Linked DNA regions of Homo sapiens: region 1 is linked to region 2. Evidence: fine-mapped expression QTL. A gene starts in region 2. The other region holds a variant in brackets. All regions are shown on one strand. Distances are between the middles of the regions.

Region 1 (2,715 bases), 37 kb before region 2:
AGTGGGTTCGTGGTCTCGCTAACTTCAGGAGTGAAGCTGCAGACCTTAGCAGTGAGTGTTACAACTCTTAAAGGTGGCGCGTCCAGAGTTGTTTGTTCCTCCCGATGGGTTTGTGGTCTCGCTGACTTCAGGAGTGAAGCCACAGACCTTCACAGTGAGTGTTACAATAAAGCTAGTGGGGACCCAAAGAGTGAGCAGCAGCAAGATTTATTGTGAAGAGCCAAAGATCAAAGCTTCCACATCCTGCAAGGGGACCCCAACGGTTTGCAGCTGCTGGCTCAGGTGGCCAGCGTTTATTCCCTTATTTGGCCCTGACCACATCCTGCTGATTAGTCCATTTTACAGAGTGCTGATTGGTCGTTTTTACAGAGTGCTGATTGGTGCGTTTACAAACCTTTAGCTAGACACAGAGTGCTGATTGGTGCGTTTTTACAGAGTGCTGATTGGTGCGTTTTTACTGAGCGCTGATTGGTGCGTTTACAAACCTTTAGCTAGACACAGAGCGCTGATTGGTGTGTTTACAATCCTTTAGTTAGACAGAAAAGTTCTCCAAGTCCCCACCCAACCCAGAAGCCCAGCTGGCTTCACCTCTCACTGGGATTACAGGCGTGAGCCACCACGCCCAACCGGTAGGAACAAAATAACTTTAAACAATTGTCCCCAGGTGTAGGCACCGGCTACAGGGGGCCAGGGAATGACTGGAATTCCATACCCATGTCTCTGTGGGTCTGCAGATCTCTCAGTTCTCAGCCTGCTCTGAGCTATTTTTCTTTTCTCATATCCCCCCTGTTGATCAAAATTATTCCCATGGCAGCATTGATGATCAGTCTCTGTGCAGGTGGCAGTGATAGATGTCCTTCATCCCTCAGTGCTGGGAAGTCTCATTCCTGGGTAGTCCTCATTCAAGCCACTGATTTATATAAATGCTGTTGTTGCTTGTTGAATCATCTCCACTCTTCAGAATATCATTTTCTGGTTTTCTTGGAAGAAGCAAAACCCTGAGAGATACATAGTAACAAAGCCTATTCCATTGGGGATTCAGTTCAAATTGTAGGAAAATAATAAAAGAACTCAAAAACAATGGTCGGGGGCTGGAATCTAATAACAGGTGTTCTATAGCTTTCTTCAGGAGCCTAACTTTTTTCTCCAGTCCCTATTTTTACCAAAGTTTAGTATTATACTTGGCCTGATTATTTGCATAAAGTGCAGCAAGAATAGTGATTGGCCATATAGACCCTTTTAAGTTGACTTTGCTGGAACGTTCAGAAGGAATTTCAGATTAGACTTTTAAAAGTCTCAAGGCTAGGACATCAAACCAAGGATTCACCGCTAGACTGCACCTGTAATACTTGTACAAATTGGGTGAATTTCTCTCTTCCCAAGGTCCCCAAAATATCTTTTGGTTCCTGGGCATATCAGAAAGACACATTCTTTATTTACTGCAAGATTA[G/A]AAACCTTGAAAGGGAACTATGTAGACAAGATAGCAGGCCAGTTTTGCCAAGAGGCTTTTTATCAGCTCTATAAAGTCCATTTCAATTCCTCAAAGCAGTGTTATCATATCTGAAAATACGTCATTCCAGTCAGAATCTTGATTTGAAAAAAAAATTGTCTTAAATTGTATCCTGTGACAGAAAACAGATTCTTACTGAACTAATGCAAATAACTTGATTGCCATAAAATACGAATACTCATGAAGATTTTCCAAGTTTTGGGGAAATCAGGTAGAGATAAAGGCAAATGTTTCCATTTTGTTTACAAAGGTATATTTTATCCAGTTTCTATAAGCTACAAATAGTTCAAAAGAGAAAAGTTTTCTTGACTGTGGAAATCAAAATATAAAAAGAATCAGCAATGTTTTGGGCAAAAAATCATAAAAGTCATTTCAGTCCTCTATCAGTTCAGTCCCATGTAATTAATTCTTGTCTTGCTTGATGTTGGGTTAGCAATCTTCATGAATGCATTAGTTTATTAGAGTTCTGAATGTTTTTACTTGGTCCAATGATACGATCTTTGAAGTTATCAAAAACCTGTATTCAAGAGTACAGGGCCGGCCGGGCGCGGTGGCTCACACTTGTAATCCCAGCACTTTGGGAGGCCGAGGCGGGCGGATCACGAGGTCAGGAGATCGAGACCATCCTAGCTAACACGGTGAAACCCCGTCTCTACTAAAAATAGAAAAAATTAGCCGGGCGTGGTGGCGGGCGCCTGTAGTTCCAGCTACTCGGGAGGCTGTGGCAGGAGAATGGCGTGAACCCAGGAGGCGGAGCTTGCAGTGAGCTGAGATCAGGCCACTGCACTCCAGCCTGGGCGAAAGAGCAAGACTCCGTCTCAAAAAAAAAAAAGAGTACAGGGCCAGGGTCCTTTTCCATGAATCTCTTTGAAGAAAAAGCAAATTTGAACTGCAGCCAGTTGTAAATCACTTTTTGAGAAGAATCAAAATAGAGCAATAATTGTCTATGAATGGCAAAAGACTTCGGGTAGCTATAGTTAAAGATGTAATTAACAAGGAAATTTGATTATTTCTGTGGCATACAATAATTTAACATAATAACTATAATTATGTGTGACAACATAGACGTATCAGAATGTTAGGAATCTCATAACTTGAGAACACACATTCATAACGTATCTATACAAATATAACTCAAACAAATTTAAACACCATTTCTTATTTGACAAAGCTTCCTGTATGACTTTAACATACCACGGTGGCTT
Region 2 (3,012 bases):
TGGGCAGATTTCTGAAGTGGAGCAAGAGAAATCTTCTCTTCTTCACCTGCTTCAGGGAGGCATCAAAGTGCCAAAAAGGTGGGTTCTGTGGGTCCCCGAGGCCCGTGGCAGGGGCCAGAGTCTGACACCCGCTTTCCCTGGGTTGGGGGCGGGGTGCCTCTGCCAGGAGCCTGGGTTCAGACCAGGCTGGCCTGTGGTCAAAGGCACACTTAGACCCTGGCTGGAGAGTTGGGGCGAGTTACGAGATACCCACTAGGTCACCTGTCAAAGACGGCTAGCCCTCCTGGGGATTTTGAAATCAGGGCACCCGCGGCAAGTTCCCAGGCTGTGCCTGGGGCTCAAGGCGGTGGCTGCTCCTGTGCTCTGGGCTTATTCCCAGGATTCTCAGACGGCTGATGGAAAACGCCCCGGACCCTCCGTAGTGCCGCGGGGAAGTCCCCGGAAAGGGTGTGAAAAAGTATCGAATTTGGGTGATGCCTCCTCCTCGTCCAGCGCCTGACAGGGCCCAGCTCCTGGCCCAGGTGCCCAGGAGGCACCGATCCCCGCAGCCGGCCTCCTCCCGCGCGGGCTCCACTCCCATTTCGGCCTCGCCCCCACACCCCATAGTCTTTCATCCGTGAGTCCTGCAGGCAGGACGGGTTGGAGGTCTGCAAACAGGACCCTCTCTGGGAAGCCGCGACAGCGGCTGAGCTCGGGGTTTGGGGGCGCAGGTCGGGCTAGAACCACCCCCCTTCTCTCCGCGTCCGGGCATCGTCCCAGCGGCCCCTCCTCTGTGCCCAGGATGCTCGGGCGGCGGCTGCAGTGGGACCTCCACCTTCTCTGCCAACCAGAGCGGAGGAACCTTTCCGCCTCCCTCCAAGCGGCGCACTGAGCGCTCTTTGCCTAGAACGACTTCCCTCCCGCTGCCTGGGGCAGCCTCACCCTGGGCGCCCACACCCCAGCCCTGGGAGAGCGCTACTCCGCCTCCCGCACCACCGAAAACCTCCTCCTCCTTTACGGGCCGCGCCTCCTTTACGGGCCGCGCCCCCTTTATACGCGGACGCGCCCTCTTTTGGTCGCCCCCTCCCCAACCCAGCACTAAGGAGCACCCTGCTCTGGTCTCCGCCACCACCCAGCGCCTCCTGGACCCATCCCCCCAAACCCTTGAACGTCCTCAGGACCCCCAGGTGAGCGCGGCGCGCTGCGGGCGGGGACCCTCTCTGCACCTCCCCGCACCCCTGGGGGTCGCTCTGTCCCTACGGTCCCCGCCTCCCCTTTCTCCTTTCTAAGCGCCTCGCGCCCAGGCCGCCGCCCGGGGTGGCGCAGCCCGCAGCCCTCCCGCTCCGGGCGCCCTCCGCCGCTCCGAGACCCCCTGGGGGCGCGTCCTCTCCCGCTCCCCTGTTCCCTCCCCCGGCTCAGGGCGGGCGCGTGGTCCCAGGGGAGGCTCCCGCCCAGCCCCGCACTCCTTTGTGCGGCCGGGCGGGCGCTGCGTCAAGGTGGAGGCGCGGCCACACGCGCGCACCCACCCGCGCGCACCCAGCCCCCGGGAGAGGCAGGAAGGGAGGCGGCGGCGCGAGGAGGAGGGAGCGGCCGTGGAGCCCAATCGTTCGCTCCCCTTCCCGGGTCCGCGCGCGGCGCCGCCTCCGCCATTGCTGCGAGCAGGAGCAGGAGACGCGGAGCTCGGAGCGCTCAGCTGACCTGCCGGAGCCGGGCGTGGGTGAGTGCGGCCGGCCGCGCCTGGGCTTGCCGAGGCCAGACCTTGCCCGCCCAGGAGCAGTGCCCGGGGGATGCCCATCTCCCGGAGTACGCGGGACGGGGCTGTGAACAGCGGGTCGCCCGGGTGCGGCGGCCCCAGGACCGGGGACCGGGTCTGGAGGTGCTGGGCAGGGGCGGCGCCCCCTTCCCTGGCCGCGGTGCGCCCTTGCGCCCGGCGCTTGGGTCCTGCGAGATGAGGGTCTAGAAATACACAGCACCACCCGACCCCCGCATCGGGCCGTGACCACCGCGTCCCCACGAGCCCTCCCCGAGACGAAGCGGGGCCGGGGAGCTCGCGGACGCCGGGACGCCGGTGGGTGTGGGTGCCCACTTCCCCCCCGCCCCGCCCCGGGTCTTGCTTGTGGTGACTCCCCCCGGCCCTCCCGCCGCAGGCTGCAGCCTCGGAGCTCCCGGAACGATGGTGAAGTTGGGGAACAATTTCGCAGAGAAGGGCACCAAGCAGCCGCTGCTGGAGGATGGCTTCGACACCATTCCCCTGATGACGCCCCTCGATGTCAATCAGCTGCAGTTCCCGCCCCCGGATAAGGTAAGCCCCCCCACGCCCCTCCACGTTGCCGGGTGTGCACCCCCAAATCTCGCACGGCGGGCGCAACAAAAGAAACGCGCCGCGTGCGCTGGGTACGCGAAGTGGGGGCGGGCTCGGGAGGCCGGAGGGAGCGCGGCGAGGACAGTGTACCCGCGCGGGATTCTGGATCGCGGGATGCTGGGCGGGGGAGGGGAGCCCTGCCTTAGATGATATTCTCGTCCTGACAGTGGAACGCGGTGGGGCAAGATTCCTTCGCGTTTTTCCTGGGAGCCTCATCCGAGAGGGCCCTGGCCCCGCAGCTGCCCTGCTCCTCCCTTGCCCCGTGGCCCCAGGGGCTCTGGATCGGGGGTGAGCCTAGGGGCGGGCGAGGCTGCCCCTGTACCTTCCCGGGTGTGGCAGTTCAGCCCGACTTGCCCCACCGAGGCGGGGGAGCGTTCTCCTTGGTCAGATGGCCCCTCCCCAGGGCTGAATTGTTCTCGCCCTTTCTGCCTGCCCCTGCCAGGCTGGCGCTAGGTGCAGGAGGGTGTGCGCGCTCACACAGGGTCTCCTTCCTCTTTGTTCCTTTTGTGAAATCTCCAAATAAGTGCCCGGGCTCGCTCAGTATTGGTGTCACTGGGAAAAACCATTCATCAACCTTTCCCCAAAGTGTTTTCTGCTGAATTTAAAGAATCTCCTCTTTTTGAATGTAGCATCCAATTAAGTAGTTTCTGTTTGCTAAGAATAATATTTCC

What was found.
Region 1: its variant is fine-mapped to the expression of NSG1 in whole blood (INTERVAL, PIP above 0.99).

What each region holds. Positions count from the first base shown.
Region 1 is chr4:4,348,553-4,351,267 of GRCh38, forward strand. No RefSeq gene overlaps it. Among named protein-coding and RNA genes, the nearest start is that of NSG1, 37 kb to the right of the region's middle. The variant G/A (reference allele first, on the strand shown) is at 1,451.
Region 2 is chr4:4,385,478-4,388,489 of GRCh38, forward strand. NSG1 (neuronal vesicle trafficking associated 1) reads left to right here and starts at 1,625. Exons shown (of 5, transcript NM_014392.5): 1 at 1,625-1,696; 2 at 2,127-2,281. The coding sequence starts at 2,153.